3 linked regions of the Homo sapiens genome follow. The protein of the gene in region 2 interacts with the protein of the main gene of each other region in a biochemical or structural test. Each region holds a gene or a part of one and is shown on either strand. Other genes may lie near its edges. The genes, in order: HELB, POLA1 and RBMS1.

Region 1 (10,034 bases), on a different chromosome or scaffold from region 2:
AGAAATAATCAGAGGTGGAGAATTGGTCACCCCCAATTAAATGCTTCTACCCTGAAGTGACATGTTGCTCTCATTTCATTGGTCAAAGTAAGTCAGATGGTCATGATGAATTTCAAATAGATGGGGAAGTACAATGCTACTGTGTGTCTAGAAAGAGGAGAATTCACTATCAGTGGATACTAGTACTACATGCTGTTTGTATGTATGTCTGTTGACTGAATGTAATCTAACATGTCTTTATTATAATTTCTACTCTGTATGTAATTGCATCTCTATGGTACTGTGTTATTGACTCATTTGTTGTCTTAACTCTGTCATACCACTTTGGATCCCACTTTTATAAACAAAACAGACAAAATACTAGTTTAAACATTTACCAGGATAAATTAATATGTAGCGCTTTCAATATAACTGTGAAACTGTCATTATCACAACTGCACCTTAATTGCATCCTTTGCCTCATCACAGTAATTAAACAGATTACTAAATCTTATTCCCTCCCCATTCCCCCAATACAATGTTTAGGTTTTGCTAATGATCACTTCACATTGTGCTAATTGCCTTGATGCCAGCCAGGCACATTAAAACAAATATATTTCTGACATGACTAGAAAACACATTATGTAACACAGGAAAAAAATCTTCCAAGTGAGAAGCATTATGTATGAGATACTGAAAGGTATTGCTTCATGATTCAGATTAATTGATTTATTTAATAACAATTTCCTAGGATAACTTTCAAGGGGACATTGCAATGAAAGTTTAGTTTATGGGAGATGAATAGCCACGTTTTCAGAAAAGAATGGTTAAGCTTCTGTTTAAAACCTCTAGTGGCATCTTGCTGACCTTGCCGTGGCCTCCTGAAACACTGCAAGTTCTGGCTGCCACCCACTTCCTACCAGCCTCATCTCACACCCATTCCTTATACCTTCAACTTCAACTTCACTGACTGGCCACCAGCAATCCTGGAATCCCCAATTTTTTCTCTATGACATTGATGTTTTGGAATATCCAGGTCAGTTGTCTTGTAGAATGTCCCATATTCTAGATCCGGTGTGGGAAAACTACAGCCTGTTTTTGTACAGCCGTAGAGCTAAGAATAGTCTTTACATATTTAAAGGGTTATAAAAAAAGAAGAGGGAGAAGAGAAGGAAGGAGGAGGTGGAGGAGTATTATGTGATGGAGACCATATATAGCATGCAAAGCCTGAAATATTTACTATCTGTCCCTTTGCAAAATGAAGTTTTGTCACCTCTGTTCTAGATCTTTCTGTTTCCTTATGGTATCATTCAGTTGGTACCTCACTTCCTTGGATTTGGGGCAAATTGGAAATTCGGTCTACAACTGTGCTGTCTAATATGGTAGTCACTAGACACATGGATTTCGAGTCCTTGAAATATGACTAGTTCAAATCGAAGTGTGCAGTAAGGGTAAAATACAGACCAGATTTTAAAGACTTAGGATAAAAAAAAAAGAATGTAAAATATTTTGTTAATAATTTTTATATTGATTACCATGTTGAAATACTATTTTGGATATTTTGGATTAAATAAAATGCATCATTAAAATGTCACCTATTTCTTTTTTCAATGTGGCCACTAGAAACTTTTAAATTACATATGTGGTCATATGATATATATCTCTATTGAACAGTACTGGTCTAGAGCCTTGATTAAAATCAGGTTAAATACTTTTGGTAAGAATACTTAATAGCTAATTTTATGTATATCTTATTGCGTCATAGCATGAAATACACATCAATTGTGTCCCATTATTGACACTGTGTTTGATAACTTGATTAAAGGGTGAGTGACAAGTATCTTCACTGTATAGGTACACTTTTCCCTTTGCAATTCGTAATCTATTACTGCCAGGAGACTATCAGTTCCCCAGTGATGTTCATATCCTTTGGTGATACTTGCTTGAATCAGTCGTTACTTTAGGGGGTTGGAAAATGCTGGTTTCTATTTTTATAATTTCTTCTTAAAAATTCTTATTAACTGGCATTTCTCTCTCTCTTTTTTTAACTATCACAATTAACATGTGAATTTTTATTTACTCAGCATGTTATAATCAAGTGCAGTCACTATTCCTTTTGATACTATAATTTTCCTTTTTTTTTTTTCATTGCAGTGACACCATCTTGCCTCACTGCAACCTCCACATCCCCAGTTCAAGCAATTGTCCTGCCTTAGCCTCCCAAGTAGCTGGAATTACAGGCACGCACCACCTTGCCCGGCTAATTTTTATCTTTCTAGTAGAGACAGGGTTTCCATGTTAGCCAGACTGGTTTCGAACTCCTGATCTCAAATCATCTGCCCACCTCGGCCTCCCAAAGTGCTGGGATTACACGCGTGAGCCACCACACCCGGCTGGTCCTTGCTTTTGAAAACAAAAAGTCACCCAGATTAAAAAACCAAGATTAGGCTGGGTGCAGTGGCCTGTAATCTCAGCACTTTGGGCAGGGGGAGGCAGAAAGATCACTTGAGGCCAGGAGTTCAAGGTCACAGTGAGCTATGATTGTGAGACTGAATTCTAGCACAACCCTGTCTAACAAACAAACAAACAGAAAATTGAGATGGTGGGTGTGATCAGAGTTACTGGGGTTACATTGCTTTCAGGTTCTTTTGGCACACAGAACTAGATAATACATTTTAAGAAATCACAAGCCCATATTGATATTTTCAATTCCAGTTTAATGTTGTAGGAGCTTTTTTCAACTTATTTTATTTTACATTTGTATTTCTTTCCATGTACATTTAAAACTTTTAATAAAATATGAATACATTTACTTATTTTCTTTATCCTACAATATATAATTTCAAAATTACACTAACAATATTACAACAAACATTAACCATAATGAGTGAAGTTTAAGATCATTTTTTAGATCTTTTGTCTGCAGAGTATAACCTACCAGGGGTGTACAGTTAGAATAACTTAAAATATTTACCCAAAGTATTGAAACATAACTTGAAATGATTATTTTCTCTTAGTGGTTATGCAATTCACTTGATAGATTTGTTTGTTTCTGTTTGTGTTCAATTTTCTGTTTTGCTTTTGTTTCTTTTATTTTTTGAATGTGTACAACATTTACATGATTCAGAAGTCAAACTACATAATAAATTAATCTCAGAGCTCTTGTCCGTATCCCCTTTCTGTCCTATCATGTTTCCATCTCCTCTGTGGGTAACTATTTTCATCAATTTCTTCCCCCTCCACCTCCCCCTCCTCCTCCTCCTTCTCCTCCTTCACCTTCTTCTGGCTCACTGCAGCCTCAACCTCCTGGGCTCATGCAATCCTCTCACATCAGCCTCCAGGGTAGCTGGACTACAGGCACACGCCACTGTGTCTGGCTAATTTATTTATTTTTTTGAGACAAGGTCTTGCTATTTTGCCCAACCTGGTCTGAAACTCCTGGGCTCAAGCAATCCTCCTACCCTGGCCTCTCAAAGTGCTGGAATTAGAGGCACGAGCCACCATTCCTGGCTATTTTCATTAACTTGTGGTTTATCTTTCATGTGATTTTTTTTTTTTTCGTAACACTGACACATACAAATAAAATGATATGCATTGTTTTACATCTTGCTTTCTCTAATTTAAAACAGTATCTTGGAAACTACTCCCTACCAATTTGTGGCAATCTTTCTTTCTTTTTATAAAAAAAATAGCTGAAGAATACTCCATTGTGTGGATGTACTACAGTTTATTTCATTAGTCTCTTGCTGTTCAACATCTCTGCTATTTCCAATAATTTGCTATTACAAAAATCACACAGTAGATAACCTATGTCTATGTTGTTTTTTGTTTTGGGAAGTGTAGCTTCAGGGTAGATCCAGGTATCTCAATTTTAGAACACATCCCAAGTGATTTTGATGCACAGCCAGATTTGAGTACCACTGCTTACTATGTATGGTAAAGATGGTATCCAGAAAGCCAGAATTGTTAACTTTTTTTTTAAAAGAATGAGAAAACAATAGGTAAAGAAGTAAGATTCTTATCATCCTAAATTCCTATCTACACTATCCAATAAAATGCAATTGAACTATATGAATAGAAGCTGAACATATAGTGACCAGGTGCAATGGCTCACGCCTGTAATCCCAGCACTTTGGGAGGCCGAGGCCGGCAGATTACTTGAGTTCAGGAGTTCGACACCAGTCTGGACACCATGGCGAAACCCTGTTTCTACAAAAAATTGCAAAAAATTAGCCGGGCTTAGTGGTGTGAGCCTGTGGTCCCAGCTACTTGAGAGGCTGATATGGGACGATCACTTGAGCCTGCTGGGAGGTCAAGGCCTCAGTGAGCTGAGATGGTGCCACTATAGACCTGTACCAAAAAAAAAAAAAAAAAAAAGGGAGGAGGAGTTGAACACCTGTGCTGTGTAGTGGCTCACATCTGTAATCCTAGCACCTTGGTAGACTGAGGCAGGAGGATCACTTGACTTTAGGAGTTCAAGACCAGCTTGAGCAACACAATGAGACCTTGTCCCCCCACCCCCCAAAAAAAAAGAGAGAAAGAAAAAAAAGTTTAACATCTAGAGATCTAGAGTTGATTCTTGTGCCCAAGTCATCATGTTGGTAACAAGAATATCCCATGTATATACTCATAAGTGACCCAGATTTGGGAAGCCAATGATAAGTTGCAGTTTAGATATGCTGAGTCTTAAGTAGCCAAGGGGCATCCAGTAGTGACTGACAGTGTTTAGGCAGTTGTTTGTATGGTTTGGAGATCAGATTAGGCTGAGTCATTAGCATGTAGGTGAAGGATGATTGAGGAAAGGATTATAGAGCAAGAAGATGCTTGGGATGGAGCCTTGGGGAATAACAGTACTTACAGGCAAGCAGAGGGGTCCAAGACTGTAAATAGCCAGAAAGGAGAAAAATCTGAGAAGGCAAGCTGCAAAAGCCCCGGCAGCAGAATGCTACAAGAAGAAAATACTTATCAGTATCAAATACTGCTGAGAGGTCAGGTAAAACAAAGGCTGAAAAGTATCCACTGGTTTTTGAAACGAAGAGGACAGTAAGTGTGACATTTGTCAGAGGAGATTCAATGTTGTGGTGGAAACAGTAGCCATGTGAATGTCAAAGGAATTCAACCTCATATAGCCAATCCTTGGAAACACTGGTGTTTTGTCAGCTGCAACAGTATTTCTTTTAAAAGCAACAAAAGTGGGCATTTTTCAATTGGTACCCAAAGGAAAAGAAATCAATTTTTATATTTTCTCCTATACATTTTTCTTAAATATTTGGTGCTAGTTGTCGTTTATATATATTTAAATATAGCATCAGGTGCTTTTGGATTTAGTAAATAGTGTGTGTTTAGTTATTTCAGGAATAATCCCAAAATAAACAGTATCAATACAGTAATGTAGTAATATATTTATGGTATTTCTTAAATAGTACCAAGACTTTCAAGTACCATCCTCATCAAGTAAGAGAATCATAGCCCCATAATAGTTTTTAAAACCACGTTCCTTTCTCTTCTATTTCCCTTCTCCTATTCCTGTCTATACTCTGGGCTGCAAAGAGACACTTTTGCCCCACTGTCAGCAGGTAGCAGCCCAGCTTAAATAAGTTTGGGAGACCAGGGTGTACTCACAGAGGAAAGGATAAAAATAACTTTGAATGTTATCTAATCCAGTGGTGTCCAAACCTAGCTGAGCATCAAAATGGACAGCCCGGAATGTACATTAAAAAGACAGAATTCTAGGTCCCTGCCCTAGATCCGATTCCAGAAGGGCATCTGCTATACTTTCGTTTTGGGAAGGTTGGGGTGGGGGTTGCTTTTCCAGGTTCTTCAAGCTCAGCAGAAGTGGACTTTCTCCCCGTTCTCTCTCCGCAGGAGATGCCGTGCACTGGCGGTTCTGCAGGTGCCACGCCTGTCACTCCCCAGCGCTGATTTCGTCCCAGCACCTTCCTGATAATCACCGCCCAGCACCAGGCTCCAAAAGGAGCGGAAGCCCCGCCCATCTCCCAGCCCCTCGCTCTCCCTTCCCCGCCCCTAACCCGCCTTGCCCCGCCCCTTCCACATGCCCTCCCCTCGGCAATTCCTGGAAACTTGGGGCGGAGCTTCGCTGCCTTTCAGGTTTTATGTACGCTGGCGGCCGCCAGGCCGTTCCCGGAAGTTGATGGCCTTACAGTCGTAGAACTGATTGGCTGATCATGACCATGCAGTTAGCCAGGGTTTTCCCGAGTTGTTTGGGTTGAGTTCAGGAGAAGCATGGCCAGGTCGAGTCCGTACCTGCGCCAACTTCAGGGACCTCTGCTCCCACCCAGGGATCTGGTGGAGGAGGACGACGACTACCTAAACGACGACGTGGAGGAGGATGAAGAGTCCGTGTTCATCGACGCCGAGGAGCTCTGCAGTGGGGGCGTAAAGGCTGGCAGCCTCCCCGGGTGCCTCCGCGGTGAGGAAGGCGTCTGCCCGGGGGATGGGGTTGGAGGGTCCAAAGTAGCGCTTCCCATTCTGGCTTTGCCCTGAGCAAGGCACCCAGTCGTGCTAACAGATTTAGCTTATCAGTGGTCTAGCTGCTTCATCCTACCAAGGGTAAAATTATGACTATAATAATAGCAGTGACTTTAACTGGACACATACTATGTGGTTTTTTTTTTTTTTTCTTTTTTTGAGCAGCAGCAAGATTTATTGCAAAGAGCGAAAGAACAAAGCTTCTACAGTGTGGAAGGGGACCCGAGCGGGTTGCCCTTTTTTTTTTTTTTTTTTTTTAAAATTATTCTCATTTTAATGGTCGTCCTTTAATTTAATGTACCTTTAATGTAAGGTAGTTTTACGCTTAAGGAAACAGTGGATGTTGAGTCTCTATTTCCACCCAGAATCGGAACTTTTATTTTTCCTTCTGACCACTTATCCTCAAGTTCTATAGAATGAGAACTTGTAATTATTATCCTATATTGCCTGGAGTCAAATACGTGGTTCTTCCTCAGCTTCTTGGAAAAACAAAACAGTCCGGGCGCGGTGGCTCACGCACTTTGGGAGGCCGAGGCAGGTGGATCACTTGAGGTCAGGAGTTCGAGACCAGCCTGACCAACATGGTGAAACCTGTCTCTAGTAAAACAACAACAACAACAACAAAACTACAAAATTAGCCGGGCGTGATGTCGCACACCTGTAATCCTAGCTACTTGGGAGGCCGAGGCAGGAGAATTGCTTGAACCCAGGAGGTGGGGGTTGCAGTGAGCTGAGATCACACCATTGCACTCCGGCCTGGGCAACAAGAATGAAACTCCATCTCAAAAAACGAAAAGGAAAGAAAAGAAAAAGAAAAACGAAACACAAGGAACACCTCAGTGCACAGATGATTGTTAATTGGTGTTAGTAACCTTGTGGTTCGGGTAAACCTTGTATAAGTAGTTTCCTGTGCTATGAGGTAGTTTCCTGTGCTATAAGTTATACCTGTTATGTATACTTTGTGACTGAGACTTAAAATATTTTAATGTGCCGACCGGTGCTGTTCAGTAGAACTTTCCATGATCATGGCAGTGTTTTATATCTGCACTGTCTGGTATAATAGCCACTAGCCATATGTAGCTGTTTAGAACTTGAAATCCAGCTAGTGTAACTGAGGAGAGAAATTTTAAGTTTTATTACATTTTAATTTAAATAGCCACGTGGGTGGACAGCGCAGATTTAGGCAGAAAAGTTTCAAGTATTTGTGGAGGGCTTAGTCGTCATTCTAAAGTATCATCAACTGGCTAGCATGTTTGGTGCTGGGAAAACCTAGAGAAATAAAATAACAAGGTTGCAGTCTTAATGAAGCTTACCCTCTAGTGTATTAAACAAACATTCTTTAATCACAGAAGTAACTATAATGTTACTAAATGCTTAGAAGGAATGCTAAATAGTGCTTTGAGAGGTTTTATACATGAGATTCAGGGAAGACTTTTCTAAGTAAGTGATAGTTAAGCTGAGGTCTGTAGTAAATGTAGTAAACAGTAAAGGGGAGATCAGTTAAGGCAGATGGAATAACTTGAGTGAAGGGCCATGGCATTTTAAAGAAACTGCATGAAGGCCAGTATTGGCTGAAGTCAAGAGTAGCAGAGAGGGGACTGATTTTAGAAGAGGAACAGCAGACACCTGCTGTGTACTGTGCTTGCGTTTTGGAATACAAAGACAAACGAAACAGTGTCCTGTTTTAGTATTTACAGTGTAGTGGAGGGAGACAGAAAAAGAGGTAGGCAGAATGCAGTGTTACAGGCACCCTACCAGACATCTTTAGAGAGTGCTGTAGGGAGATTAAAGATAGTGGTAAGTTTGATGAAACTTTGAGGAAACGGTTTCTAAATAATCTCCAGAGTTAACTTTTGTGGGTTTTTGTTTGTTTTTTTTTAGTTTCTATTTGTGATGAAAACACACAAGAGACATGTAAAGTGTTTGGACGTTTTCCGATAACAGGTGCTTGGTGGAGAGTGAAGGTACAAGTAAAGCCTGTGGTGGGATCAAGGAGCTATCAATATCAAGTTCAAGGATTTCCGTCTTACTTTTTGCAGTCTGATATGTCACCACCAAATCAAAAACATATCTGTGCTCTCTTTCTTAAAGAGTGTGAGGTCTCCAGTGATGATGTTAATAAATTTTTAACATGGGTAAAGGAGGTATCAAACTACAAAAACCTAAACTTTGAAAATCTTAGGGAAACACTAAGAACTTTCCACAAGGAAACTGGAAGGAAAGATCAAAAGCAGCCTACACAGAATGGTCAGGAAGAGTTGTTCCTAGACAATGAGATGAGTCTTCCTCTGGAAAACACAAGTAAGTGTGATTTTTATCATCAACTTTCAGTGTAATTGACATACTTAATAACTACAGTGTTTAAAATGTTACCACTAGCATAGTATTCTTTTTAAAAATCCATTTGGTGAAAAATGTGTTTATGTTGCTTTTGGAGTATGCCATTGACATTTCAGGTTTCTCATCTGTAGCATGAAGGGATTATATGAGCTGATCTTTAAAATCTTCCAGTTCCTTTCCACCTCTAAAACTGTGATTTTAATCTCTCTTTCTAACTTTTGTATTCACAGCGATTACCTTGAATCATTAATAAAAAAAAATTCAGTTGCTGGCCAGGTGTGGTAGCTGCTCACGTCTGTAATCCCACTTTGGGAGACTGAGGCAGGAGGATCACTTGAGCGCAGGAGATCGAGACTAGCCTGAGCAATGTAGTGAGACCTTGTCTCTACAAAAAATTTTTTAAAAATTAGCCAGGTGTGGTGATATATACCTGTAGTCCCAGCTACTTGGGAGGATGAGGCAGGAGGATCACTTGAGCCTAGGAAATGGAGGCTGCAGTGAGCCATGATTGCACCACTGTACTCCAGCCTAGGTGAGAGTGAGACACCGTCTCAGTTAAAAAAAAAAAAAAATCAGTTGTAAATGATTCTGTTTAAAGAGGTAGAGAAGAACGACAAGGATGTGAATAATACATTTAGGAAATACTTCAGTCCAAAATGGTTTCAAGTAATTTTTAATATGATTTGTTATCTGGATATTCATATATATGGAATATTTCATTTCCTAATTGTATCAAATAAATTTGATGGTACATCAATGAATGATTTCAATGACAAAAGATTATGATTATAGAAAATGATTATGAAGGTTACTATGTAAATTATTTTATATCCTTAGCTTTAAATTTATCTTTATATAATTGAGTCAGAATTTTTATTCTGTTATAGTGCAGGCAGTAGGAAACAAAAGGCTAAGAAATCATTATTTAAGCATTTAAAGAACATAAATTTTGGTGTTAAACACAATGAAAACCATCTCAGTACAAAAGCAATTGTCATAATATGATCAAAATTTTCTTACTGGTTAAAGCAAGTGTACTAATCTGTTTTTGACTTGGGTTTCTTGAATCGGTTGTGCAAAATGAGAAAGTACTTCAAATCAGTCATTCTTTGGGTTCATTTATGTTTTACTTTGTTCCTTTCTGATATCTTGTAGTTCCATTTAGAAATGTAATGACAGCTTTGCAGTTTCCGAAGATAATGGAATTCCTTCCAGTTCTTCTGCCT
Region 2 (11,061 bases):
TTTTCGTCAACGTTTTCATGTGTTTAACTGTTACTGCTATTGAGAGAAGATACTCATTTAGGTCAGGCGTGGTGGCTCACGCCTGTAATCCCAGCACTTTGGGAGGCTGAGGCGGGTGGATCATCTGAGGTCAGGAGTTCGAGACCAGCCTCGCCACCATGGTGAAACCCCATCTCTACTAAAAATACAAAAAAAATTAGCCAGGCATGGTGGTGCACGCCTGTAATCCCACCTACTTGGGAGGCTAAGACAGGAGAATTGCTTGAACCTGGGAGGCAGAGGCTGCAGTGAGCCGAAATCGCACCACTGCACTCCAGCCTGGGCAACAGAGCAAGACTCTGTCTCAAAAAAAAAAAAAAAAAAGATACAATACTCATTCATCAGAGACAGACAATGGAAAAAAAAAGTTCCTGCTTTGGAGTTAGACAAATAAGAGGCTTGATCTCCATCTGCTACTTACTTTTTGAGTTTCCATTTCTTCATAAATAAAGTATAATTTATAGAATTAGGTCTACTGAATACAATAGAAAAAATAAAAAACAGTGGCTTTAAATATGACAGATGTTTACTTTTCTCTCATGTAGAAGTCTGGGGGTAGACAGCTCAGGGATGGTATGGTGACTTAATGGATGTTAGGGACCCAGGCTCTTATTCTGTTCCACCATCTCACTGTGGGGACTTTCATTTCCACAGTTATCTCGTGATACAAGACGGCTGCTGGAGCTTAAACCATCACATCTGTGTTGCAGGAAGAAAGAGAAAAGAGAAAAAGCAGAAAGGCAAAAAAGAGTCCCCTTTCAGATCTACCAGAATACTTTTTTTTTTTTTTTTTAACTTTTAGGTTCAGGTACATGTGCAGATTTGTTATATGGGTAAGTAGCATGTCACGGGGGCTTGGTGTACAGATTATTTCATCATCCAGGTAATAAGCATAGTACTTCATAGGTAGTTTTTGATCCTCACCCTCTACCACACCCCACCCTCAGTTGGTGCCAGTAACTGTTGTTCCCTTCTTTGTGTCCATTTGTACTCAATGTTTACCTCCCACTTATAAGTGAGAACATGTGGTATTTGGTTTTCTGTTCCTATGTTAGTTCGCTTAGGATAATGGCTTCCAACTCCATCCATGTTGCTGCAGACGTGATCTCATTCTTTTTTTTTTTTTTTTTTTTGAGACAGAGTCGTGCTCTGTCGCCCAGGCTGGAGTGCAGTGGTGCGATCTCGGCTCACTGCAACCTCTGCCTCCTGGGTTGAAGTGACTCTCCTGGTTCAGCCTCCTGAGTAGCTAGGATTATAGGTGCCCGCCACCATGCCTGGCTAATTTTTGTATTTTTAGTAGAGATGGGGTTTTGCCATGTTGGCCAGGCTGATCTCGAACTCCTGACCTCAGGTGATCTGCCCACCCAGAGTGGCCTCCCAAAGTGTTTGGAATACAGGCGTGAGCCACTGCACCTGGTTTCTTTTTTATGGCTGTAAATTAGTTCCACCATTGTGGAAGACAGTGTGGTGATTCACATAAAAGTAGAAGTCTAAGAATCAAACCCTAAGTCTGACTCTACCTGAGTCTTTAATCCTTCCAATATAATATTAAAGAGGACAAATTATAAACAAAAAGAGTCTATAATTCTATCATCCTGGCAAAATATACTCCATTTTGCATATTGCTTTCAGGTAAATAACTGTTTGATATATCATTGCAAATAAGTGTGGGTATGTATCACTTTGCCCTCTGTGGTTTTCACTTTCTGAAATATCATAAACATTTTTCATATTTTGAGTCTTTCTAATCATTTTATCTTTTTGATGTCACAACATTAAACCTTTGTTATGATGTGGACTTTTAGGTCCCAACTTTTTGCTAATGGAAAACAGCAGCCATTAACGTCTTTGCATTTTTTGTTTCTATTATTTCTTATTAAACTTTTACCTGTGGAAATAAAGGGTTGAAAGATACAAGTATGTTTACGGTACTTGTCACATATTGCAATATTATTTTCCAAAAGATTGTGCCAACTTACACTGCCACCTGTAATAAATGAGTTGTGCCTCAACACTGTAAGCTTACCAGCAATGGATAACATTTATATATAGAGAAATGTACAGATAAAAAGGGGGAAAATGGTGGAACATAGTATCTCAGTCTCAGTTTGCTTTACTTTGTTTATAAGTTAAAAAAAAACCTTTAAACTTGCAAAACTGGTCCTGGACAGGAGAGAGGAAGTTTAAGACAAATTATGATTTTTTTGCATGATTAGATAACAGAGGTAGGTTTACAGTAAAGCTGCTGAAACTTAATCTCCAGGGCCTCTCATTTGCATATTGGCCACTTGCAAGGCTCTGGGAGATGTTCTAGCAATGGTTTTATGTTTTTGTAAACATTTGCAAAAGTAAGATATTTCATTTTATTTATTTGTTTATTTTAAGATAGTATTTGTCATATTTATTTGCTCCATTTATTCTAAAACAACCCTGGCTCCCTCCTTCATTCCCATCTAATCTACCCCAATCCTTTTTATTAATATTATTACTTAATTAATTGTTTATGTGAATGAGTTCTTTAGTGGTGATTTCTGAGATTTTGTTGCACCTATCACCTGAGCAGTGTACACTGTACCCAATGTGTAGTCTTTTATCCCTCACCTCCTTCTCACCTTTCCCAGAGTCCCCATTGTATCATTCTTATGATACAATGAGTCCATTGTATCATTCGTATGCCTTCGGATACTTGTAGCTTAGTTCCCACTTACGAGTAACACACAATGTTTGGCTTTCCATTCCTGAGTTACTTCACTTAGAATAATGGTCTCCAATTCCATCCAGGTTGCTGCGAATGTCTTTATTTCATTCCTTTTTACTGCTGAGTAGTATTCCATGGTGTGTGTGTGTGTGTGTGTGTGTGTGTGTGTGTGTGTGAGATATATACACACACACATATGTATATATACACATATCTCACTTTTTTTAACCTACTTGTTGATTAATGGGCATTTGGGCTGGTTCCATATATTTGCAATTATAAATTGTGCTGCTGTAAACATGCGCGTGCAAGTATCTATCATGTATAATGACTTCTTTTCCTCTGGGTAGATACCCAGGAGTGGGATTGCTGGATCAAATGGTAGATCTACAAAAGTAAGATATTTTAGCTGCAATCAGATATGACTACTTTCCACTTGGTGGTTTGCTGGTAAACCTTAAAAAAATAAAAAGCTCTGATTTGTACCACTTGCCAATTTCCAGGGTGTAAATATTCCCACCATGACTGATTTCAAGCTACCAACAGTTTAACATGGAGATTACAAAATACTGGAATATTTAACAATCAGCTCTTGAGAACCTCCAACTGTCCCTCTGATACACTTCGCTTCTTGCATAGTAGCAGTGAAATAGGCATAGGCATTTTGGGATTCCACTATGGGGAAATGGAGTTGATATTGCATTTAGTTTGGGCTTATTTCTTCTATTTATGTGGGTCGAAGGCACTTAACCCACATATATACTTAAGCCATATATACTTAAGTTATTGATAGACTTTTTTTTTTTTTTGAGACAGAGTCTCACTCTGTCACCCAGGCTGGAGTGCACTGGCACAATCTCGGCTCACTGCAACCTCTGCCTCCCGGGTTCAAGCTATTCTTCTGCCTCAGCCTCCCAAGTAGCTGGGACTACAGGCGCCTGTCACCACACCCGGCTAATTTTTGTATTTTTGGTAGAGATGGGGTTTCATCATATTGGTCAGGTTGGTCTTGAACTCCTGACCTCATGATCTGTCAGCTTCGGCCTGCCAAAGTGCTGGGATTACTGGCGTGAGCCACAGCGCCGGGCTGTTATTCATAGACTTCTTGGTGTAGGAATAGCTTCCAGGAATATTTCTACCCCAGTGTGATGACTTACCAGGAGTTTTGAACTGAAAGTGTAGGGCCAGAAGACATATCATGGTATGAAAGTGTCTGGCCTGGCATGGTGGCTCACACCTGTAATCCCAGCACTTTGGGAGGCTGAGATGAGTGGATCACCTGAGGTCAGGAGTTCAAGACCAGCCTGGACAACATGGTGAAACCCCATCTCTACTAAAAATACAAAAATTAGCCAGGTGTGGTGGCGGGCGCCTGTAATCCCAGCTACTCGGGAGGCTGAGGCAGTAGAGTCGCTTGAACCTGGGAGGTGGAGGTTGCAGTGAGCCGAGATGGTGCCACTGCATTCCAGCCTGGATGACAGAGCGAGACTCCATCTCAAAAAGAGAAAGTGTCCTACAGGTCTTTTCCCACAAAGTATGTGGGTCATTGTCTCAGTCTGTTCAGGCTGCTATAACAAAATACCACAAACTGGGTGGCTAATAAACAACAGGAATTTATTTTTCACAGTGCTGTAGGCTGGGAATTCCAAGATCAAGGTGCCGGCAGATTCAGTGTTTGGGGTAGGCCCACTTTTTGGTCCATAGATGGTGCCTTATTGCTCTGTTCTCACATGGAAGAAGGGGCAAGGCAGCTCTCTGGAGCCTCTTTTCCGAGGGCACTAATCCTATTCATGAGGGAGGGTTCCTGCTGATGACCTAATCACCTCCCAGAGGCCCTACCTCCTAACACCACCACACTGGTGATTAGGTTTCAACGCATACATTTTATGTGGAGAGAAACATTCAGACCACAGCAGTAGTGAAAGAGAAAAGAGGTTTGAAATGCCTAGAGTTATACCCGGGCATGTGGGAAGTAATCAGCTGTGAAATTGTTAAGGTAAGGATTTGGTTCTTATTAATGACTAGCCAACATGGTTCTCTCCTGGTTGGAAAAAGCTTGATAATAAAACTATAAAACTTCCATCAGTTTTTAAAAGGGAAGTGTAGGAATAAATCTGTCGTAGTACTTTAAATAGGAAGTTATGTCTAAGTGTAAATTACTACATGTTATGTATCACAACATATGGATCACATAACATGATATTAAATGATTATGAAGCTGAAAGACATTTTCTAAACAATCAGAAATTAAGAAACAAGTATTGATCAACCATGCTAGAAGACAGATTGAATTATCTTTATATCCTCTTTGGAGAAAATATTACAAAATTGTTGTCACATGAAGAAGGGATCAATAAGCATGTGGGCAATAATGTAGGAAAAAATACAAATGTGTGGCAGGCATTATTTAATAAAAATGTTATACCTTTTTGGAAAGAGATAACATGAGATGTACACATTACAGCCATTGTATCATACACAAAAATTGAATACCCTTTTTGTTTTTCATAACATTGAAATTTTGGAGTTCACGTCAGGTGTTTTGTAGATTGTCCTACATTTTGAATACATCTGATTGTTTCTTCATGGTTAGATTCAGGTTAGACATTTTTTGCAAGAAGACCATATAGGCGAAGTTTTTCCTTTTTCATACGCATTACATCAGGAGGCATATGAGATCAGATGGCCATTTATTGGTAATGCTACTTCTGGTTATTTGGTTAAGACGGAGCATATATCTTTAAGTTGTTAATCACACAGCCACTGTATCCAGACTGCTGAGAAGCAAACTATCAGGCAAAATTCAGGGCGCGCAGCAGGAGGCAGTCGCTTTCCCGGCTCTGGGGAAAACGATCCAACCACGCCCACTCTCCTGCCCGCCCGCGCCTCCTTTCCGGGAAAATGGGCTCTGAGAACCAGAGCGCCCTTTCTCCCACGCGCCCAAATCTTTTCCCATCAGCATGCGTGCGCTTGCGCAGTCTCCAGGCGGCTCCTTTCCAGCGCCCGACCGCTTCTTTCTCCTGCTCTCCTCCGGCTTCCCCTCAGCTCTAGCTTTTCCCTAAGGGGTCATCACAGGGCGCCAAACGCGCGTCCGCGGGAAGGCCGGGGGCGGAGCGCGGCGCGGCGCGGCACGTCAGTGGCCTTCCGGCCGGAAGTCCGCAGCCTCCCGAGCCGCTGATTGGCTTTCAGGCTGGCGCCTGTCTCGGCCCCCGCGCCAGTTTTGGGCTGGTTGGCGCGGAATCGGGAGATTCGGGACCATGGCACCTGTGCACGGCGACGACTGTGAGATAGGGGCGAGTGGTGAGGGACAATTCCGCGCGCGGGGCTCCGGGTTGGGACAGTGGCATGATTGCCGGTGGTGGGGGTTCTGAGGGAGGCGCACACCCGGGTTTGTTTGGGCGCAGACCTTGGTCGTCCCCGGCGGGGGCCCTTCTGGCGTCGGACCGGGCTTCCTTTAGGCGCGGTTTGCTCTTGGAGGACCAGAGCCTGGAGGGATTTTTGTTTGGGAGGCTGTCTCACCTCTGCCACTGAGAGTCTCCACAGTCGATTGCGTTTCTATTTCTTTTGGTGAGTTGCACCCACGTGCTGGGTATAACTTTATTGAGACTGGCCCCGTGGGGCCGAAAGTATTTCACTGCGATCTCCCTAAGTATCCACTTGAAGGCTTGAACAGAACAGATCTGTGTCCCTTTTTGTAGGAACTTCCAGGAAAATTTTATACATTGTAACTAAGCAGGAAAGAAAGCTCTAAGTGCTGTCATCGGGGAATAACGCGTTTTGTATTTTTAGGTAATGGGTTTCTACTTTATGCATTAACAATTTTTCTTTCAGATTCTTTGGAAAGTTCTTCAAGTGCTGCGTAGAAATCCTGTTCACAATCTAGTCATTCCTGGTGAAGTTTCAAAAAAATGGCATCAATTTAGGGCATTTCGGATCCCCTGTATATCACTCCGTTTGTCAGGGGTGTCTTTTATTTCCAAAAATAGAATACAAAAATGCAAATAGATTTGTCTGATTTTTTAAGTGTTCAACTAAAGCGTGACTTCAGTTAACTTCTAACTTAAAATCAGATGCTTCACTTTGTTAGCTCAAGCGTCACCTCTCCTGTCATTCAGATACATCACCATTAATGAGAACTCGCTTCCTAATCAGCTTCCTTTGCATTCACCTAGTTGTGAGTCACAGATTTCAATTTGTTCTAGCCGTTCGTTTTTTAAGACTATTTTGGAGAGTCGACCTGCCTGGATTACAGATAGGATGTTGGGTGTAAGTATGTGAACGAACAGTCTTTGCAGGCCTCTATCAGTGATTTGCCACTAAGCCCTTTCTTCATCCTAAAAACTACGTCATCTATGAACATCAGGAAATCACTTTGGAGGATACTGTGCAATCTTGAGACTCCTCTTAGGTCATGGTGTTCATTAAGTAGTTGCTGGGGACTTGTGACTGGAATTTTTCCTTTAGAGCAGACTGAAGGATTGTTACCTGAAAGACTGCTGTAAGCTAGTGTCTGTCTGCTTTTGGGGAGGATAGAGATACTCCAGATGGTAATTTTGAAACAAATATTTAAACCTTTGTAGCTGGATTTTTTTCATGCTTATTCTTTTTTTGCTAAGTTACCTACGTGAAGCATTGGAGACATACTCCAAAAAACAAAATGTAGGCTTTTTTTTTTCTTCAGTATTAGCAGGCAGGGCACCTTGATAATGGCAGTGAAAAGTTGAAAGGTCTGTAACTAGCTGTTACTATATATGAAAAAAGATCAGGGAATTTTTATTTATTTATTTATTTTTGAGACAAAGCTTCCCTCTTGTTGCCCAGACTGGAGTGCAGTGACGTGATCTCAGCTGGCTGCAACCTCTGCCTCCTGGGTTCAAGCAGTTCTGCCTCAGCCTCCCGAGTTGCTGGGATTACAGGTGCCCACCACCACACCGGCTAATTTTTTGTATTTTCAGTAGAGACAGGGTTTCACCATGTTGGCCAGGCTGGTCTTGAACTCCTGATGTCAGGTGATCCACCTGTCTCTTCCTCCCAAAGTGATGAGATTACAGGCATGAGCCACTGCGCCCGGCCAGGGAAAGTTTAATGATCAAAAAAGCAGGTACAGTGGTTCATTCATTGGTTCATTCAGCAAATATTTATTATATACCTACTAGGTATAAGCCTTCTGCCAGGCTCTGGCATTATGATGGTGGGTAGGCTGGACATGGTTTGTCTTCATGAAGTACAGATGGTAAACATCTAATCATATGCAGAAAACGGCTTTGCTTTGTTTTTGCCTTCTAAAGCTAGACCTTGGTACTCTTAGGTATGGTGTGTGTGGGGTATGTGGATGTGTGTTTGACTTCACACGCGGAAGCGTTACATGAGCCGCTCCTATATTGCTAAGTGCAAAGTAAGATAGGCATCTTCATGTAATCCTTAACAGATTTTGAAGCAGACATGATTATCCCCATTTCACAGATGTGGACCCTGAGGCTCTGCATCAGTCAGAGCCCCTATCTGTAAGCTGCAGGAACCAACTCTACCAGATTGGTTAGAATTTGTTAGAAGAATATTGTGTTCACAGAAACTCCAGGAGGACTAGTAAGCCAGTCTGGGAGCTGTTTAGCCAGGAACAGTGAGTGAAATTGTGCCACAAAAATGGGCCAGTGAGGAGGTCATTGCCAACCACGAGCAAGTACTTGATGCTATAGCTCATACCTTAGGACATTGCTGACATTGTTGCCGGTTTTGTAATCCTTCTGCAGCTGTTGCTACTTGTAGAATCTTTTAAAACCCATGCCCCCTTCCTTGTGACACTAGCTTCTGATTTAATGTCTGAGCAGGTGTTCCTAATCGGTAGCGCCTATTTTATATGCCCATGCTCTAGGCTGCAAGGGTGTCTGGGAAAGAGCATCAACCTTTTCAGCTTCTGTAATGGGGCATAGGCTCTGCGTCTCATCAAGACTTATAAGGGATGGGGGCCGGATTTCACAAACAGTTTCAGATGCTAGGCTGCTTTAAATAACAAGACACCTGTCTGCTGCTTAACTGGTTAACCGGTGTTCTCATGTCACCCAGTAAATGGCAGAGCTGGAATGTGCTGCTTCTCCCTAACCTGGTTCTCCTACTCACTCTACACTCCCTTGTCGAATTTACCTTGCACACTGAGTTCTCTCAGTTTCTGAATACACTATGCATTTTCATCCCTTTGTAATTTGGCTCATGCCTCTTCTTTTGCTTGTGCCACTTTTTACTTTGTTCTCTGTGAAATTTGACTCCTTTTTCTAGGCCTGTATTGGAAACCTCTCCTGTGAAGCCTTCCTTGATTTTCCAGGCAAAATTAACAGCTCTCTCCTCTGTACATTTCCTCAGTACTGAGTTCTTACCTTTTCTATGGCACCATGTTTATATTGTGATGGTAATTTCAGGTACTTTGCTTTACTTGACTGGGGGCCTCTTTTGGACAGGCAGCTCTGTCTTATTTGTGATTGTACCCTAAACCCTGTGTAGTGGAACATTGTTGCCTGTGTAGTGGGACGTTGCCTGTGTAGTGGAACATTGTTGCCTGTGTAGTGGAACATTGTTGCCTATGGAGTAAGTGCATTTGAAGACCTACAGATGTCAGGCATCAAGGGAGTCTTGAGGGGAATCGCTTTTCACTTTCAGGGGTCATGTTCAGTAATCTTCAAAGCCTTTTCATGTAGGCCTGTTCACGATTTTTGAAATCATTTGAGTGACATCCAAGTTTTTGTGGCTGTCATCATTAAGTACCTTTATTCCTTAATTTTTACTTAATGTCTTTCTGAAAATGGATTTAAAAGTCAAATGTGAAAGTCAAACAATAGAGTGTGATATTATAAAGAGAGATTCCATTTCTAGAAAGCTAGAAAAAAATAAGATCTCTAATTATGCCTTACCTTTAGGCTATAGTTTCCAGCAGTTTATTGCCAGCATTTGGTACATGTTCTTTAAATTGTATCTTCTATTTCAGTCAAACACTTAGTCAAGCAGCTTAATGTTGTTATGAACATTCTAGTGGGGTTGGAGTTTTAGGCTGCCTCTTATCCATACTTCTTTTCTTTGCCTGCTCCTTTTTATAAATTAATTAGCACCAAACACAGTAAAATACTAGATTTCACAGACATAGATGGCAATCATGCTGAGCCTAAACTCGTAGTTGACAGGCAGCACTGTTATGCTTGACTTAGTTTTTCATCAGTGGGTATGTGAAAGTCTTTAATTCTGTGGATGAATTTTTTTTTTTTTTTTTGAGATAGAGTCTCGCTCTGTCACCCAGGCTGGAGTGCAGTGGTGCAATCTCGGCTCACTGCAACCTCCATCTCCTGGGTTTAAGGGATTCTCCTGCCTCAGCCTCCTAAGCAGTTGGGATTACAGGTGCCTGCCATCACACCCAGCTAATTTTTGTATTTTTAGTAGAGTTGGGGTTTCACCATGTTGGTCAGGCTGGTCTCAAACTCCTGACCTCAGGTGATCCACCCACCTCAGCCTCCCAAAGTGCTGGGATTACAGGCGTGAGCCACTGCATCCGCTTGAATTTTTTTCAGTGTGTGTGTGGAACGGTCAGTTTATGATGATCGGAGCATGAATAATTCAAAAGTTGAATGAATAAACGCTGAAGTCCTCTGATATTTCAGTAATTTTTGACAAACCATTTAAGTCCCTGTAGTTGTTTTAGTAATGTCCTGTGTCATAACCAACTGAGGCCTTGAAATAAGTGATATACCAATAATCCCCTCAGAGCCATCTTTGTTAAATTTCTCCAGCCCTCAATCTGTTCCTTCTTTGAATTTCCGGGTGCTTTGGCTGAATCTCTTTTAAGGCATTTATTATCTCTAAATATTGTTTAGAGCCAGTTGCTACTTGTCTCCCATGTTAGATAGTAAGTTCTGTGAGTACAGAGACCATGTCTTTTTTATCTTTTTTTGTTGTTGTTGTTTTTTGTTTTTGTTTTTTGTTTTTTGAGATGGAGTTTCTCTCTTTTTGCCCAGGCTGGAGTGCAATGGTGCGATCTCAGCTCGCTGCAGCCTCCGCCTCCCGGGTTCAAGTGTTTCTCCTGCCTCAGCCTCCCAAGTAGCTGGGGTTACAGGCATGCACCATCATGCCTGGCTAATTTTGTATTTTTAGTAGAGATGGGGTTTCACCATGTTGGCCAGGCTGGTCTCGAACTCCTGACCTCGGGTGATCTGCCTGCCTCAGCCTCCCAAAGTGCTGGGATTACAGGTGTGAGCCACCACGCCCAGCCTGTCTTTGTGTCTCATAGTGCCTAGTACTTTGCAAAGAGTAGATGCTCCTTGAAGCCTTTTAGATATTGATTGACA
Region 3 (10,129 bases), on a different chromosome or scaffold from region 2:
AAGCTGTTAGAATTTTATATTGCTTCACATGGAATATTGGGGTACTCCCATTTCCCTGAAACAAGCAGCCAGCAACTATCTCAGAAATGTGTCATTTTTACTGGTTATAATTCTTAAAAAGCTTGTTTTCCTAAGATATGAAATGCCTGCCAGTATACAAACTGTTGTAACTACTTCCCTTTTTGCTTTTAGCGGGGAAAAAATAGCTTAATGACAGCATAGAATCATGTAGTAAATATAATTCATTTTTTGAAAGGTTCAGCTATATCCTCTTCCATTTGTTTATTTTAAATGATCTAATTGCAAACATGTCATCACTCCCTTGATGTTTACCTCCTTGTTATGCATTTTTAGCAGGCTTTATTGTCACCTGAGATTTTTTTTTTCTTTGACAGGCTGGAGTCTAGATGAAGGAAAATGTGTTAGAAGCACCTTATCCACAGATGGGGACACTTGGTCATTCAGCACATGTTGAGCTTAGGCAGGCATCAGGGTCTGGCTGCTTACCTGCTTTTATTCACACCTGCCTGTTTAGGTGGCCTGCACTGAACTTCTAGAATGAGTCCAACCTGATCATTTACTGTCTCTGAAAGAAATTATGCTAATAGAGAAAAACGGCCAGTTGGGATCACTTGCTGAGCCAAGTAACTTCTTTAAAAAAAACAAAAAAAAGGTTAAATTTCAGTCTAGGACCTAGTTTTCATAAACCCTCTAGATAAAAGCACCTCGTTTTAGAGAAGACCCACTATGTACCAGCACCACCAAATTTATTATCTTCTCTCTTGCTCTACGAGATTATGTGGAGTCAACATCTTACAACCTCAAATGTCAGTGGATAAACCTCTCTAGATCTGGGCCAAGGCTTGCTGATAGTCTCACCAGACACCTAACATTTTTGTTCCTGACTCGTCATACCCATAGTCCAGTTGTCATTCAGAAGTGAGTTGGCATTCCAACCCATCCCTCCAGAGTGGTTCACACCAGGGAAAGAAGAAAGGAGTGCCAGGCAGCAGCCCAGACAGCTCACCCAGAAGGAGTTACAGTTGGGCTTTTTGTTTTCTTTTGTTTTGTTTTTTGGCAGAGAAGTGTTGAAAGACACTACTGCTTCCACCCTGTCATTAGTGGGTGGGTAATCATGAAATAAAATAAGAGATGAATTAGGATAATAAGAGGCACAGGAGAAAGGAGTAAATTTTCCACAAGTAATATTTTTCTCTTCGTGGTTATTTAACTTTGAAACAGAACTTGAAAGTAGTAATCATGGTTCTACAGTAGACAAAGGACAGAATGTGGGAACCAGACAGGAAGGTGTGATTGCCTTTATTACATTAACTAGAAACACAGAAAAATGCACAACTTTCTGGAATACACTGCTATTTCCATTGCAGAAAAGCAAAGAAAAGGAAAAGTTACTGGTGCCCTATTGTGCTGTCTGTAGACTTTTTTTTTTTTTTAACTCTAATGAGTATATATCTTTGAAAATATTCTCTACATCTTCTGCTTTTCTGTTTTGGCCTCATGGATTCTGTAAGAAGAATTTATATAAATGTATAGGTATATAGTAATATATATTATAAGTAATATAGTAATAATATACAGATCTATATATAGTGGTATATAGATATATAGTAAAGCAATACCCAGTTGTATGATTAAAGGCACAGAAAAACCTTTAAATAGGGTGGACAAGTATTTTTAGCTTTCTCACAACAGCCATCTTCACTGACGTATCCCAAAAATAAACATATGAGACCTATTTCTATTCATTCACTGATGCAACCAAGATGTAATAAGCAACTACAAAGTCCAGACACTTAGGCACTGGGGATACAGTGATAGACAAAACAGACAATGTTACTGCCCCCATGGGGCGTATAGCCTAGAAGGGGAAACAGACACCAAGCAAGTAAACATACTCACCAATTGTTACAAATTGTGAATAAAAATATATGTGCGAGCAGTGTAGAGGTGGCTTGTTTTCTACTGGGAGAAGTGAAGGGTCCCTCTTAGGAATTATAATGGGACGCTAAGGGACCATTTTAAGTTGGGGGAGGGGAGGATGGCACAATCCTATTGAATTTGAAGATTATTTTGGTGACGGTCCAGAGGTGGAATTGGAGAGGGCCCAAAACCAAAAGAAATGTGTCTACTCTTAAGTGTGAAAGTGAATCGAAAGATTCCTTTGCTTCCTCAGAATAGTTATTTAAATGTTCAGAAATAATAACTAGTATGTTTTTCTGCACTATGTTTTTCATCGTGGACAGTTTTACAAAGGTCTGAGTAAACTGCTTTTGCCTTAAAGTGTTGTATGAATTTTCTAATAGCGTGAACACTATTCCTATTTTTGTAATACATTTTGTCATCCACATACACGTATCATTGTGGTTTCATTTTATTTTTCTCTGTTTACTTAGCCCCCACAGAACCTTTATTGTGTAAGTTTGCTGATGGAGGACAGAAAAAGAGACAGAACCCAAACAAATACATCCCTAATGGAAGACCATGGCATAGAGAAGGAGAGGTGAGACTTGTAAGTCCTTTCTTGAAACTTTGCGGGGTGGGGGAGGGGGTGTGATCTTGAATGCCCACATGAAAAGTAACACAAAAAGGCATCTTGACTTGGCTGCACACTTCTGAAATAGGTGCCAGGATTAAATCTTCCTTTCGGTACATTATAATTCAAGTGATGCCAAATTAAAATTCTTTTCATTATATATGGTGATAACAGAGTGATTCTCCAGATGGACCGATAGGTGGTGGAAGCAGCTGTGTTTACCAGCTAGCTACACATGAAGTAAAAGAGCATTCTAAATTGCCATAAGAAAAACACAAGTGATTTGGGTTTGTTTTTGGTTTTTTTCAGAAACAGGGTTTCTGTAGGCTAGGCGCGGTGGCTCACACCTATAATCCTAGCACTTTGGGAGGCCAAGGCAGGCAGATCACCTGAGATCAGGAGTTAGAGATCAGCCTGGCCAACATGGCGAAACCCCGTCTCTACTAAAAATACAAAAATTAGCCCTGCGTGGTGGTCCATGCCTGTAATCCCAGCTACCTGGGAGGCTGAGGCAGGAGAATCGCTGCAGCCCGGGAGGCAGAGGCTGCAGTGTTCCAAGATCATGCCACTGCACTCCAGCCTGGGCAACAGAGCGAGACTCCATCTCAAAAAAAAAAAACAAAATAAAAAAAAAAAAAAAAGAAAGGAAGAAACATGGTCTCTGTTGCCCAGGCTGGAGTCCAGTGGTGTGGTTATAGCCTACCACAACCTTGAACTCCTGTGCTCAAGCAGTCCTCCCACCTCAGCCTCCTATGTAGCTGAGACGACAGGGACATGCCACCACTCCTGGCTAATTTTTAAAAATTTTTATTTTTTTATTTATTTTTTATTTTTGAGATGGAGTCTTGCTCTGTCGCTCAGGCTGGAGGGCAGTGGCACGATCTCCGCTCACTGCAAGCTCTGCCTCCTGGGTTCATGCCATTCTCCTGCCTCAGCCTCCCAAGTAGCTGGGACTACAGGCACCCACCACCATGCGCGGCTAATTTTTTGTATTTTTACTAGAGATGGGGTTTCACCGTGTTAGTCGGGATGGTCTCAATCTCCTGGCCTCATGATCCACCCACCTCAGCCTCCCAAAGTGCTGGGATTACAGGCGTGAACCATCGTGCTCGGCCTAATTTTTTAAAATTTTTATAGAGATAGGATCTAACTATGTTGCCCAGGCTAGCATGGTTTCTTAGAGGGGTTTATATTTATAATATTTAGAAGTTATCCTAAATAGTAATCTAAATATTTATATATAAATAGTACATTTATCACTGAGTTGGGGTTTTTTTCACCTCTCTTTTGAATAGTTTTTTTTTTAATTAAAACTCTCAATTTCGTAATAAAATGTTGGACGTCCATTTCCCTGTATTGACTTTCCATGAATTATTATTTTAAAAACAATAACATATTGATCCAAGAATGTCTAGGGAAAATGTTCTAGAATCTGCACTGTCCAATAACAGCCACCAGCCACAGGTGGCTCTCTGAGCACTTGAAACGTAGCTAGTATGCTAGAGAGATTGATTTTTTATGTAGTTTTAAATAGCTGCATGTGGCTTATGACTATCACATGGGACAGTGCAGGTCCAGAGATTAATTTTCATATTTATAGTCATTTTGACTAACAGAAACTCCCAATTTTATCAAATGCTACTAGACTCTAAGTACAAATTCCCCTCCCTCCCCTTTTTTTTTAAGAGACAGGGGTCTCCTTCTGTTGCCCAGGCTGGAGTGCAGTGATGTAATCATAGCTAACTACAGCCTCGAACTCCTGGGCTTCAAAAGGATCTTCCCACCTCAGCCTCCCCAGCAGCTGGGACTACAGGTGCACACCACCACACCTGGCTAAAAATAGAATTTTTAAATCATGCCTTTCTAGATGAATGTTTATATTTCTTTCTCTTTCCCATAGGCTGGAATGACACTTACTTACGACCCAACTACAGCTGCTATACAGAACGGGTATGTCGTTAAAATAAATCCATAATGGCTTGAGGGAAAATGTGAAGGTGGAAAATATCAGACATTTGTTCCATGAATTATTCTATTTAAAGGATTACTTAATAAAGGCTTTTGTGTTTGTTCTAGATTTTATCCTTCACCATACAGTATTGCTACAAACCGAATGATCACTCAAACTTCTATTACACCCTATATTGCATCTCCTGTATCTGCCTACCAGGTTTGTACCTTTAGGATTCGTCAGCAGTATAACCACTTGCGGACCATGAATCTCTGCTACATTTTTATGTGTCTTAAAATTTTGAGCGTTTATGAAATTTGAGTCAAATATTATGCAGCTTGGATACCCAATTTAGTATGAGCTGCTTTGTATTTGGCAGAGCAATTTATGTATAGGAGAATGTAAAGCAAAGGAAAATGTTTGTCAGTGGTCAGTCCTTGGAATCATAGCATTTTGGATTGGAATGAACCCAAACACTTCCTTCACCAAGGGGCCCTGCTTTTGGACACCATGTGTCCCAAAAATTGAAACTTAAGATAATTGCCGTTAGATATAATACAGAATAGGTGTGTACCCTTGCTTTTGTTTATTCTTCAGCAGGAACTGATAAAAGAACAAGTATAAACATGGTAATACATAAAGATGTGTCTCTAGTAGGTAGCATTAAGTGAGCAATGCAGCTGACATTTGAGGTAAAAATATAAAAGCAAAAAGGTGACTTCCTGTTTAGGTTAAGTGAGGAGGCTTTACCTTAAAATAAATTCCCAACTTAGCAACAAAAACTCTTGAAATGTCTTGTATTTCAAGATTTGATTTGATTTTAATGCAAAGGTAGCTCCTGTCCGCCATGAACCCAGTAGTGTACATGCATTTCTCCTCCTGTGTCAGAAAACCTCTAACAGGATTACTTCCTGGACCCAGATAGGAACCTTATAATGGAGTTCAGTTGCAGACATGTGGGAGCAGAGTTCCCTTTTGTTGACCATCAGGATCCTGTGTGACTAAATTTTTGTGTATTCTTGATTTTAAAACAATTGAATTAGATGTTGTAGTCCTAATTTCTGGGGTTAGAGGACTACAATATGTAATCTAATAGTTGTGTTATTTTAACTTCTATAAGCCTCAGTTTCCTCATCTTTAAAATGGGGATAATAATAGTTTCTATCTCATAGGCTTGAGAGAATTATGAAAACCAAATGAGACTGTATAAAGAGCCCAGCCAAGGACCTCACATATCATTATCACTCAGTTAATGTTAGCTATGATTATTATCATTAATATGCATGATTAGGTGGCTGATAATAAGAGTATATTAGTTATACGTTTAAATAATGAATTGGCCAACATAAGCAATGTCATATAACTAATTCTGCCTAAAAACATAAAAATGGTTTTGAATAACAGAAGTGATTAGATACGCTAAAACTGAGGATTGGCATTATCATTCACAGTCTCCTATGCTTCTAGGCTCTTACAGCCTCCTTTCCCTGAGTTGTCACTCGTTTTCTTTTCTTTTTTCTCTCTGGGTTCTTATGTTACTTATTCTGGTGCTTCATTCTGCTGGGCGTAGTATTGACTAATTTAATGCCTCTTTAGTTGTTTTGGATTTAGGATTCCTATCCTTTCTTTGACTGTATAAGACTCAGTGAGATCTGCTCTAGTGCACTTCCCTAATTAACAATTCATGTGTCTGCTATGAAAAGGTAGTCTTTCTTAACTGTCTGAACTTGGAAACCTCTGTCATTTATATGTCACTGAAAATAGGGGCAAGTGTAAGTTATTCTCAGGCAAATGAAAGGTTGTAAGTATTAATTTGAATTTATGTTGCTATAGATATTACAGCTATTAACACATTTCTCCAACACCTCTTTTTCCCTCTTATAATATAAAACCAGTGTGCATTTGGCCACAGAACCATTTTGTACAATAAAAATTAGGAGATCTGTGTCAGTAATAGATTTGATATAGCTAACTAGAAATAACATATTATTTCAGAGGCCTTATTTCCTCTCCTGGGCATTCTGTATTTCTCTAAGATACATATGGAATTTCATTGCATTGCCTGACACTCGGTGCCATAGCCTCAAAGACTGATTTTTAACTACATAAGTTCAGGGACCTAGTAGGGTCAGTGGATGAGCTTTAAGTGATCTGTGACTCCTTAAGTTGTTTGCAAAATGTTGCTTGTGTGTGTGCAATTAAGTGGGGAAAAATGTTCTATTTCCCTAATTAGGTTTTCAGAGGGCTCCATGACCCTAAAGAGGTTAAGAACCAATAGTAAAGAGTTTACAAAACATTATTATTCCCATTTTATAATTAGAAAATTGAGGAATAGAAATTGACAGCAGCTGATTTGCTGCTTAAGAAAGAAAATTAGATGTCATAGTTCCCTAATCCTGTAATGCTATAAGCTATTAGATTATTAAGACCACTGAAGCATATAAAAAATGGGGGCATCTGGCCCAAATTAGGGTCTGTAGGGAGTTGTTTGCCTTCCCATCATATATCCAGTGAGGGCCCTGCACTCATGTTGGAGTGGGCCTTTCTCCACTAAACCACCATAAGCTTATGCAATTGGATTTGAGAAATTGGCAGCTGCAAGAAACCACCAACCCCAATGGGGAAAGGCTACAGTCCAGATAACTGAAATGTTAACAAGGCAGAAGCACTTAACTTTGGTCTGCCTTAGGTGGCAAAGGAAACCAGAGAAAACAAGTATCGGGGCTCTGCTATCAAGGTAAATCGCAATACATTCTTCCCCCATGACTCTTCCCCATATCCTCTCTGTTGAACCTCTGAAGTTAACAATAGGGGATAAAATGCAGGAGGGTTTTGTTGTTAAGAATTGGAAACTGAAACTTAATAAAATTACTTAGACTCTGGAAAGCTCTGGGCATCAAGAAATGGGCTGATATGTTTTTCTCTTGAGTGGCAGACTACACATGCTTTCTTTCCTGCCACAAAACCTGACTCTCACATCTATTTCTCAATTCAGAGGGTCTACTGTGTGGATGCCCATTTGACTGTAGATGTCAAAATCTAGTTACTGAAGTTTAATTTCCTTAATCTGAATTTCAGATTTTTATTTTCTGCACTAAGTAGAAATTGTTGACCACAATACAAGATTTCTAAAATTAATGTCCTAGATATGAAAGAGAAATTGAATTTGGTTTTTTGTATTAAATAAGCACATACTTTAAGGGTTAGCTTCTAATAAGATGTGCTGGAATTAATCGTCATTCATCTGTAATTCTAAAGCACCTAGTTCATACCTTGATTGTTAACACTTTTCACTATTTGAGTTGTTGCTGTGTTTATCTCCCTTGCATAGATAGTAAATTTCTTGAGGGTGGGGCCCAGTCTGTTTCGCCTTTTTCTCTTTGTTGCCTGATACTCAACAATTACTTCTTGAGTGGGCAAATAGAAATTGTTTCTAAATAATCATTTCATCCTGTTCAGAGTGACCAGTTTGCCAAGAATTCTAACTGCCTTAATCTTTTTAATCATTGATAGTATTGTTTCCTTGTTTTCTTTCTGTAGATTTTTAACATGATTAAAAAGAGTTCTAAAGAAATAGGTAAGCTTTACAATGAAAATCAATATTTCTTTCAAAATCCTCCCTTTTCTAGGTGCAAAGTCCTTCGTGGATGCAACCTCAACCATATATTCTACAGCACCCTGTAAGTTTTTTATCTTAATGACTTTGTGTTTTACAAGTAAGTTATGTGTATATTCTCTCTAGGTTAAAACCATTTGCCAAGGGTGGTATAGGATTTGGGAAATTTTAAACATGGAATATGAGAATGTACAATTTCATTATAAAACTTCTTCTCATCCTTATAAAACAACTTGGTAGAAGATATTAAGTTACATTTTCTATAAGAACTTAAAATATATCATATTTGAGGCAGGGCACCATTTTCTTATTCATACCAGCTCTTTAGAGATCATTCAAATGAGAGGCTACATTTTTAATAGTACTTGGGATAAAACCGCTCTCATTTTTTACATTCTGTTTAATGCAGATATAAAGTTCAAAACCGAGATGAAGATTTTCATCAGTGTTACTTGGCCTTTCTATGGAGATTATAAATACTAAAGTGGTAGCACATTATTTGGTAAATAACAAATGTGATTTCTTAATGACGTGAGCATTCATATATATTACATTTTTTTAAATTGAATGAGTTATACTTATTATATAGTGTATTTCATGTGTTTTTCAAAGACACATAAGATCTAGTTTGTGGAAGAAGGGTTTGAAAATTTAAAAATACATATGGAGAACAAAGTTACAATAAGGCTAAGGATGTCCAACACAATGACCCTGCATGCTCACATGAGAAAATCACAAATTTGGCTCTAAGCTTTCTAGTAACTGATGCAAAATGGGAATCCTGGTAAGCAATACAGTTCACAATATGTGTAAAATAAAAACAGATTTGGTTGCTTAGAAAAAGAACTGTATTCTTGGCCTTATGTTCAGACAGCAATTTGTCTTCGGATACCTTTTAAAGTGGATACTGCGATGTAAGACCATGTATATGAAATAGCAATCCAGGGATAACAGGTTCTGAATGAGAAATTGCTGAGATGACCTTTAAGAAGCAGATAAAACATGTTTAGGTGATGAAATAGGAGAGGCGCGCTCTGATATATGTATACGTTTTGTGTGATATATACACATACATATAGATCTATACATGTGCACATACATAGACACATCTTCAAACCCACACTTACCTGTACATGTGTACATAATATACATGCACTGATCCACACATGCCCATAGCAATCTGTGTCCCTGATACTCCATGCTACCCTATTTTGGAATGCTTGGAAATCAGCTTGCTTTGAATTTGAGGACTTCCTATTACAGATGGTGCCAATGAATGAGAAAAAGGAGCAGGAAACTGCTCCACCATCTTCTAGGCTTCTGAGTCATTTCCGTGTTACCACTTGCTTTTTGATGATGCATGTTAAAAAAAAAATTTCTAACAGAATGTATTAATGACAAACATTATCTCTGACACACATCTATATCTTTTTTTCTTTTTGGCAACATTTGAGAAAAAGACTGCACGTATCTGAGCTTAACATCTTTGAGGAGACATTAGGAATGTAAGCAGAAGGTTGCTATCTGAGGATTCATTACCTTTCCCCACCCAGCTTTAAACTGCCTGATTTACATCAGAATTAAAGTTCCTGTACACCTAACTCTGTCCTAGATTGTCTATCTAATTATCAATAAATAACAGTTGTATTTAAGGGATGCCAGGTACAGTGATAACAAAACATACATTAGTAGTTACAGAGCGTGTCAGAATACTTGCATTCTCAGATAATGAGGTGATTGCAAAAGTCCAAAAATAAAGAGTTCATTGAATTTTGGTTTATACAATCAATGTAACCATTTAAAAAAATGATGATAATGATAGTTTTTCAACAAGCTAGGTAAATGGTTAGAATAGAATGCAAAGTTAAGAGCAAAATCCCAGGATATGAAGTTGTTGATGTGCTCTGATTGAACCTGTACAGAAACACACAGAGGCTATGATCTGGCAGTAGTACCCTGACATTGCTAACAGTGGTTGTATTAGACTGGCTGAGTTAGAAGCAATTGT

What was found.
Region 1: the proteins of POLA1 (region 2) and HELB form a complex in vitro, tested with the Homo sapiens proteins (one study listed by BioGRID).
Region 3: the proteins of POLA1 (region 2) and RBMS1 form a complex in vitro, tested with the Homo sapiens proteins (one study listed by BioGRID).

The regions. Positions count from the first base shown.
Region 1 is NC_000012.12:66,296,382-66,306,415, forward strand, and holds the start of HELB (DNA helicase B), read left to right. Parts: upstream 1-6,111; 5' UTR 6,112-6,222; coding exon 6,223-6,409; intron 6,410-8,349; coding exon 8,350-8,769; intron 8,770-9,963; coding exon 9,964-10,034.
Region 2 is NC_000023.11:24,687,968-24,699,028, forward strand, and holds the start of POLA1 (DNA polymerase alpha catalytic subunit), read left to right. Parts: upstream 1-5,950; 5' UTR 5,951-5,994; coding exon 5,995-6,037; intron 6,038-11,061. UniProt on the Homo sapiens protein: Catalytic subunit of the DNA polymerase alpha complex (also known as the alpha DNA polymerase-primase complex) which plays an essential role in the initiation of DNA synthesis.
Region 3 is NC_000002.12:160,279,370-160,289,498, reverse strand, and holds part of RBMS1 (RNA-binding motif, single-stranded-interacting protein 1), read left to right. Parts: intron 1-2,414; coding exon 2,415-2,530; intron 2,531-4,454; coding exon 4,455-4,504; intron 4,505-4,630; coding exon 4,631-4,724; intron 4,725-7,194; coding exon of another isoform or gene 7,195-7,242; intron 7,243-8,134; coding exon 8,135-8,185; intron 8,186-10,129.